2 separate regions of the Homo sapiens genome follow, and region 2 is linked to region 1. Evidence: fine-mapped expression QTL. A gene starts in region 1. The other region holds a variant in brackets. All regions are shown on one strand. Distances are between the middles of the regions. Region 1 holds the start of PRKCD (protein kinase C delta). Region 2 has its middle 42 kb from the start of PRKCD.

Region 1 (4,389 bases):
CTGATGTAAACTATGGGCTTTGGAGCCAGACAGACCTCGGTCTGAATCTGCGTCTGCCACTGACTAGCTGTGTACTCTGGGGCAAGTCGCTTCTCCTTTCTCTGAGCCTCAGTTTGCTCATCACCAAAACTGGCACTAACAGCAGCCCTCACCTCTTGAGAACTGTTCAGACTGCCCACATCCAGCACCCAGCACACAGCCTGGTGCTGGGTAGCCCCTATCAGCGATAGCCATGATTATTCATTTCCTTCTTCCATGGTGAACCACACGGAGTGGGAACAAAGGTCTGGTGGCTGGACCTGGAGCTCCTCAAGGGTCAGTCCTCCCTCTGGCTGCAGTCCCTGGCACAGGGTGGGCCTATTGTTTATGTTGAGGGAGAGACTGGGTTGGCTTACTGTGGACCTGAAGGAGGAGCCAGAAGGAAACCCGATCCCAAGTGGGCAAAGGTCACTTGAGGCTCACCTTGTTTACCCTTTCCTCCAGTCCAACCCCAGGGAAGCCATGGGGCATGATGGGTGGGGTGGGATGGGATCAGGACACAGAACATGCTAATGAATATGGTCCTTCACTCAGGGAAGTGCCGTGCATTACAACTGGGCATCAGGGAGGAGGGACATTTGAATGGACACAACCAGGGCAGGTAGAGGTTTGGGGGTGGGGTGGGAAATGGCATTCAGGCCCAGAGAACAGCATGCTCAAGGCCTGGGTGTGAAGAGAAAGTCTTTCCCAAAGGATAGTCCTTGAACCCACCTGGTCTGGCCTTTTCTCCCCATCCATCTTCCGCAATCTCAACCAGGGTCCTCCCACCTGAACAACGTGGCAGCCCTTCTGTCCCCCATCCAGCCTCTCCTCTGCCCTGCTGTCCCTCTGCCCCATCTATCCCGCAGGAGCCCCCTTGAGCCTGTCATCCTGCCTGGTTGTAATAGCTTTCACCACCTTCTCATTGCTCTGTGAGAAGACCAAAGTCCAATGGCCTGTCTCTGTCACAAGCCCCTTTCTCAGCTCAGGCCACCTCAGGGATTGTCCCCCACTTCCATCCCTTGTGTCTCAGCTGGGAAGAGCTGTCTAGACTTTCTCTATCCCTTCTAGGTGGTTCCCCAGGACCTGGAACCCTCTTTTTTGTCTCCTGGGAAGTGACATTTCTTTGGATGAGTATAAGGCTAATGTCTTGGCTTTCTGAGCTCTGGGGACAGGGGAATGGACTCCCTAGAACCCCAACTGGTCCCTAGACTTTGAGCCTAGGGGACACTCGGTGAATAGATGAATGAGTGAATGAATGAATGAAGGAGTTATGGCTGACAACCAAGTTCCATGTCTGGAAAGGAGGCTCAGGCGCCTGCCAGGAGCAATAGAGAGGTCTCAAAGGTGGGGGCAGGAAAGCAGAAGACTGCCAATCGGGGTAGGGGCAACTGCCAGTCCGAGTAGGGGCAGTTCCCAGAACCGCCTGAGGAGCAGTGCAGCGCCCGACCAGCGAGAACCTCCGACCCTGGAGTCTAACCAGCTCAGTCTTTGGGGCAGAGCCGGGACAGCGGGCTTGGCGGCGGGCACCGCGCCCGGCCGCGTCCGAGCTCCAGCCAACAGGAAGAGCAGGAGTGGGGCCAGGAGAGGCGGGCCAGCTGGCCAGTGGGGAGTCCCGGGCGTGGGTGTGGGGAGCGGGGGAACCCCCGCCGGCCCCTCCCAGGCCCCAGCGGGCGGAGGGAGCCTCCCCACCGGGCCTCAGCGTCCTCCTCTGTAAAATGGGCCCCTTCTGAGGGCTGGCTGCGCGCTAATGGCGGGAGGATGCGAAGAGGGCCAGGCAGGGCAGAGGGACCGGGAGACTCGGTGTCCCGCGCAGGCAGAGGCGGAGGGACGCTGTCCCCGATTGCAGCTGGCGGGGCGAGGCCTGGCAGGGCGAGGCCTGGCGGGGGCGGGGCCTGGCGGGGGCGGGGCCGGCGGCACCTGGGTGAGGTCGCTCGGCCCCGCCCCCTCGCACTTCCGTGTGCCGCGGCGCCGGAGCCCGAGGCGGCTGTAGCCCACATCTCCCGAGCGACCCCCGGCGCCCGCCCGCCGCGCGGAGGCCCGGGCCACACCTCACTGGCCGCTTGGCCCATCCCAGTCAGCGCCGCGCCGAACCCCGTCCGCGCGCGCCGGGGAGCGGCGCCCCCGCCGCTGCCGCCGCGACCCTTGGCGCCTGCCCCTGCAACGGGAGGTAAGTGAGGGCCGGGTCCGGGCGCGGGATCGGGGCTACCCCGAGGGCGCGGCGCCCTTCCTTCCCCCTTCCCGCCCCAGTTCCCGTTTCCGAAACTGAGAAACTGAGCCGCGGTCAGCGAAAGTCCCGCCGCGCCGAGACCTGCCGGTGACTCCGTCCCCCTGTCCGTCTGTGTGTCCCTCCGCTAGACAGTGGGGGCTGAGGTCCTTCTGTCTGCCCGCTCCCGGCCCCTCCACCCGCCCGTGTGTCTCCCGCTCCTCCGAGGGGCCCGTCCGTCCCTCCCGACTCTCTCCCGGGCCCTGTGTCCGTCCGTCTGTCGCCACCCACTCTGTGTTCTCCCCCTGCGCGCCTCTCCGAGACCCGATCCTTCTGTCCCTCGCCACCCGATCCGTCCGTCCCTTGCCCTCCGCGTGCTCCATCGCCCCACCCCCACCCACACCCCTACCCCCGCCCGCCGCCCCCTCGATCCCGTCCTCCCGGAGCCGCGCCCCCGGCCCACGCTCGCCGCCCCCTGCCAGTCCAGCCGCCTCTCCGCTCTACCGCGGGGCCCAGGCCAGGCCGCCCGCCGGGCCTCGCCTCCCGCCCCTGGGTCCCTGGAGGCCCGACCCGCGCGGCGCCTCCTCCTCGCTGTCTCTTCTTTCGGTCTCAAGAGTCTTTCTCGGTCCCTTCATCCGTCTCTGGGCTGGGCGTGGCTCCAGTCTCCACCATCCCCCTTCCCACCCCACCCCTCCGCCCCTCTGAGACCCCTCCCAGGGTGGCCCCTGCCCGATACGGTCTGTACTCGCCCCCAACCCAGATGCCACTCCCGTTGTGGGGGCTCCACCAGATGAGGGGAGGAGGTCGGGGGGGGGGGTCCTCCTGGCTGGTGGTGGAGCGGCAGAAGGAGAGCACCATCGGAACTGCTCCCACTTCCCCAGTTCCCTCTCTCTTGGGGCAGGGGAGAGCCCCACCGAGCCCCGCCTTAAACCTGGTCAGAAGGATCTGCTGTGAGTGGGCGGGGGGTCCCCTTCTCTGACGCCTACCCTGTATGCGTGGAAGCTGTCTCCTTGTGCTAAGTCACTGGTATCTGGGTGTGTGGGTATGTTGTGTGTCTGTGTCAGCTTCTGTGCTGTCTGTCACTGTGGGACTTGCCTGTGCATGTGTGTCCTTTTTCGCATGTGTGACTTGCTTGTGTGTATGTGTGTATGTCTGTTTGTGTCCTGAGGCTCTGTGTGTGTCTTTTGCAACTGTGTGTACCATTCTTGGTGTGTTTGTTGTCACCAGACTCGTGTGTGTGTGTGTGTGTGTGTGTGTCCTTGCCTGCTAGTGTGTGTGTCCCTGTGTGTCTGGAGGTTTCGGTGTTGCACACTGGGTATATCATGGTGACCAACTGGCCATGAGTACGTTAGATCTGTTAATTGTGGAAGCCCCTGGTGTTGGGTGCCTACCCACCAGTCTCATGTGTGAGTGTATCTGTATAAGTGTGTGTATGTGTGTGTACTCACGTGTGGCTCTCCCTCTGCCACTGAGTTTCTGTGACCAGGCCCACCTGGTCACTAAGGGAGGGGACTGATCCCTGGGGTTTCCTCGTTCCTGCTGTGGAGTGAGCTGGGGCTTGGTGAGCAGGCCAGCAGAGGGAGGCTGTATGGTGCATGTGTGATATGTGTGGTTGTGTGTGTGCGTGTGTGTGTGACAGAGAGGTGTGGTGGTGTCTGGGCAGCTGTACCTGGCTGATGGGTGGTGTGAGGGCTATGCGATGGGACAGTGCTGGGGTAAGCCTGGGAGTGTGTGGCCACGGTAGGAGTGTGTGACTGGTGGGACACAGTCTATGAAACTGCCGGTGTATGCTTGGGGAGTGACTGTGATTGTGGGGAACCGAGAGTGCCTGGGCGTGGGTGTTAGCGGCAGGAGGGGGTGTGACAAGGTGTGTGGTGACAGTGCTGGGAGGGAAGGTGAGAGCCCAGTGTGGGGGTGTGTGTGTGAGTGTGTGGGAGACCATGAGGATGTGGGTGTGCACATGGAGAGGGCTAGAGGGCAAGTCTTGGGGTTTGTAGTGTTGTGACCAAGACCTCGGGCTCTGTACCCAAGAATTATTTGGGCTCCAATACTTGCTTGTGCCTGTTAAGAGCAAGAGACCCAAGCTAGGCCTCTCAAGGCTGAGTGTCCTTATCTGCAGAATGGAGAGAGTGAGGACAAAAGTTCCTGTGTTAAAGGTCCTTTAA
Region 2 (4,389 bases), 42 kb after region 1:
TGCCCTGCAAGGAGCAGTGCCTCTGCTGCTGCTGCATGCTGCTGCACGCTGCCGCTTCCATAGAAATAGCTGTCCTCCAGGTGCGGTGGCTCACACCTGTAATCCCAGCACTTTGGGAGGCTGAGGTGGGTGGATCACCTGAGCTCAGGAGTTCAAGACCAGCCTGCCAATATGGTGAAACCCCGTCTCTATTAAAAATACAAAAACACAAAAATTAGCCAGGCGTGGTGGTGGGCACCTGTAATCCCAGCTACTTGGGAGGCTGAGGCAGGAGAACCATTTGAACCCAGAAGGCAGAGGTTGCAGTGAGCCAAGATTGTGCCACTACACTCCAGCCTGGGCAACAAAGGGAGACTCTGTCTCAACAAAAGAAATTGCTGCCTAACACCACTGCTTGGCCTTGGATTCTTTTCTGGGTAAAGCCAAGAACCCTCCGAGGCTAAGCCCCAGTTTTGAGGCTCATCTGCCCTGTATCAGGAGGAACATGTAATCCTGAGACCCAAAGAATGAGTAGCTCTCACAGTCAGTCTGGCAAAACTTTTCAAGTCTGATAATACCCAGTGCTGGTGGTAGGTGTAGGTGTTGGGCAGGGCGGGGTTATGGGGGAGGCACTATTCGCAGCAGTGGGAATGTAAGTTGGCCCCATTCTCCTGGAAAGTCATTTGGCACTCTGTGGGCACTGAAGACCAGCAGTGTCTCTGCTGGGGACAGCCTTGGTGGCCTCAAGAGTCACACAGATGAGGATGCTCGTTGTCTATTTTAGTCTCTGTGCTTGTCTCTGTGTTCCAAATGATCCATAATTTTTTAAAGTGTCTTTTAAAGAATATGTAGGTGTTCTGACTCTTGATCTGATGGCTGGTTACCCAGGCGTCCTTTTATAATAATTTGTTATACTGTTCTTTTGTTCTATGTGCTTTTCTTTATGGATATGACATTTCACAGTTTTTAAAAATTAGAAAGAATGAGTAGGCGAGACGCTGGGGTCAGGCAGTCTCAGGCAGAGGAAGCAGCCTGAGCAAAGCCCGGGGAGCTGGGCAAAGGCAGGGGTGTGCATGACCCTGGGAATCCTGGCCCAACAACCAGGCACCCTGGCCCAAGGACATGCGGTCCCCTGAGGAACAGCATCTCTGCTCCCACCTCTGGCTAGCCATTGGTGCAGCACCTGCACTGCCGAGGCCAGGCCTAATTTAGTCCCACTTCAGCCTGTGTGAGGCTGGATCAAAAGTGAGCTCTCAGTGAGGGGGAACCAGTAGAGGTGAGATGATGGGTTTAATAAAGTAGTTTAACCACCGCCACTGGGTGTGCTAAGAGGCGGTTGCTGTGGCCAGCAGGTGGAGGTTATAATGAGCCTGGCAGTTGTTGTTGGAGGCGGCAGGCAGTGGCTGTGCTGATGGGAGAATTCGTGGCAGTGGCAGCTTGACAACCTGTCTGGGGAGAGAGGGCGGAGCAGCGGCCACCGGTGGAGGCACGGGGGCAGCTGTGCCCACAGGGGTACTACTGATGGCTCCCCAACCAGCTCCACAGCCTTTTCCGGGGGCTTTTAGAAGGTTGGAGGAGATGGAGTACAGGCAGGGGTGGCAGGAAAGTTGTTTTTTCAGTGGAAGCCAAAGACAAACTTCAAGAGAAGAGGAAAAGTTGTTTGTTAAACTCTCTAGTGGTTTTCTGCATTGGCGATGGGAAGTCAAACCAAAGCACTGGGCTTTTGGCCTCAGCGGGGTGCTGCACCTGCAGGGTACGGAAGGGCACCTGGCATGAGGGAAAATGAGTGATTTATCTAACAAGTTGTCTTATTAGGAAAACATGGTGGCTCACTCCTCTAATCCTAGCACTTTGTGAGTTGTGATATGATTTCCAGGTGGGAGAATCACTTGAGCCCAGGAGTTCGAGATCAGCCTAGGCAACATAGTGAGACTCTATCTCTTAAAAAATTAGCCAGGCATGGTGGTCCACCTGTGGTCCCAGCTGCTTGGGAAGCTGAGGCGGGAGGATCGCTCGAGCCTGGGAGGTCAAGGTTGTAATGAGCTGTGATTGCGCCACTGCACTCTAGCCTGGGTGACAGAGTGAGACCCTCTCAAAAAAAAAAAAAAAAAAAAAAAGGCTGGGTGCGGTGGCTCATGCCTGTAATGCCAGCACTTTGGGAGGCCGAGGCGGGCAGATCACGAGGTCAGGAGTTTGAGACCAGCTTGGCCAACATGGTGAAACCTCATCTCTACTAAAAATACAAAAATTAGCC[G/A]GGTGTGGTGGCGCACGCCTGTAGTCCTAGCTACTCAGGAGGCTGAGGCAAGAGAATTGCTTGAACCCGGGAGGCGGAGGTTGCAGTGAGCTGAGCTCGTGCCACTGCACTCCAGCCTGGAATCTGTCTCAGAAGAGAAAAAAAATATCAGAAAACATTCAGACATTTAAAAAAGTATAGTGATTCTGTTCCAGATGAAGAAACAAGTAGAGATAAAATTGCAGCCCCTAGGCTGGGTGAGGTGGCTCACTCCTGTAATCCCAGCAGTTTGGGAGGCCAAGGCAGGTGGATCACCTGAGGTCAGAAATTCGAGACCAGGCTGGTCAATGTGGTGAAAATCTGTCTCTACTAAAAATACAAAAATTAGTTGGGTGTGGTGGCATGTACCTGTAGTCCCAGCTAATCAGGAGGCTGAGGCAGGAGAATTGCTTGAACCCAGGAGGTGGAGGTTGCAGTGAGCCAAGACTGCACCACTGCACTCCAGCCTGGGCCACAGAGCAACACTCCATCTCAAAAAAATAAAAAAGAAAAGAAAAAGAAAAAATAGCTGGGCACGGTGGTGGGCAGGCACCTGTAGTCCCAGCTACCTGGGAGGCTGAGGCAGGAGAATCGCTTGAGCCTGGTAGGCAGAGGTTGCAGTGAGCCAAGATTGCACCACTGCATTCCAGCCTGTGCAACAGAGCAAGACTGCATCTCAAAACAACAAGTAAATGGAATCATGTAATACGTGGTCTTTTGTGGACTGGTCAAGTGCATTTCTTTTAACGATTGAATGGCATTCCATCACATAAATTTACCACAATTTATTTATCCAAATAAATGGTGTGGAATTTTGCTTTCAGTCAAGATGGAGTAAAAAGGGGACTGTATTTTCCCTCCTGCCTGAAAAACTAAAACTCCAGACAAAATGGATGAGACAGCAGTTCTGAAGATGCTGGACATCAGGAACAAAGGACAGTGATCTGAGAGATGGGAAACGAGGGAGCTGAGCCCTGACTGCCCCAGCTCTACTGACTGCAGAGGGTCTCCAGGCTGTGGGACAGGGAGGGGGGATCCAGGTGGAGGCCAGTGGACTCCCAAGTTGAGTAGATGAAGCTGGCAGTCCAGGCAAGCCAAGGTGGCTAGAATTCACAGTGCATCCTACTGGGGACAAGAGAGCGAGAGAGAGAGAAAGAAGGAGAGAAAGAAGCCTGGAACCTGCAGAGACGCCTCCTCAAGTCTTCGCTGAGTACTGATTATTGCATGCATCTGAGGAAACCACCCAAGGCTGGGGAGAAAGCCCTCTAAATGAATTAAAGTGAACAATCCTCAGAACTCACACAGGGTTAGGAACAATGCCAGACTGGAAACTGTATAAATTTAAGGTATCACTGTTCAGAGCACCCAGAGAGGTTTTGCCTCAGTACCAGATAAAAATTAACCCGCAGCCTAGGCAACATAGCAAGACACTGTCTCTACACAAAATACAAAAATTAGCTGGGTGTGGTAGTGCATACCTGTAGTCCCAGCTACTCAGGAGGCTGAGGCAGGAGGATCACTTGATTCCAGGAGCCCAAGGCTGCAGTGAGCTCTGATTGCTACTCTACTCTAGCCTGGGCAACAGAGCAAGACCCTATCTCAAACATGAAAAAAATGTAAAATTAACCCTAGACTAAACACTGTTCTGGTCTTGCCTAACAAAGCTTAGAAGCAAGACCCAAAAGTATTAAACTATTTCCAAGAAATCATTGTAGAACTAAGCCTAAGAATATTTATGAGAACACAAAAAATATCCAGCACCCAATAAGGCAAAATTCACAATGTCTGGCACCCAATCAAAAATTGCCAGGTATTGGCCAGGCACTGGCCAGGCACAGTGGCTCATGCCTATAATCCCAGCACTTCGGAGGGACAAGGCGGGCAGATCACTTGGGGTCAGACATTCAAGACCAACCTGGCCGACATGGTGAAACCCCACCTCTATTAAAAATACAAAAATTAGCCAGGCCTGGTGACACATGCCTGTAGTCCCGGCTACTCAGGAGGCTGAGGCAGGAGAATTTGCTTGAACCAGGGAGGCGGAGGTTGCAATAGGCTGAGATCACACCACTGCACTCCAGCCTGGGTGACAGAATGAGACTCCATCTCAAAAAAAAAAAAAAAAAAAAATTTCCAGG

The links.
Region 2: its variant is fine-mapped to the expression of PRKCD in whole blood (TOPMed, PIP above 0.99).

The regions. Positions count from the first base shown.
Region 1 is chr3:53,159,241-53,163,629 of GRCh38, forward strand. PRKCD (protein kinase C delta) reads left to right here and starts at 1,969. Exons shown (of 19, transcript NM_006254.4): 1 at 1,969-2,188. RefSeq lists silencers at 1,471-2,420, 2,691-2,920.
Region 2 is chr3:53,201,454-53,205,842 of GRCh38, forward strand. No RefSeq gene overlaps it. Among named protein-coding and RNA genes, the nearest start is that of PRKCD, 42 kb to the left of the region's middle. RefSeq lists an enhancer at 1,248-1,747. The variant G/A (reference allele first, on the strand shown) is at 2,234.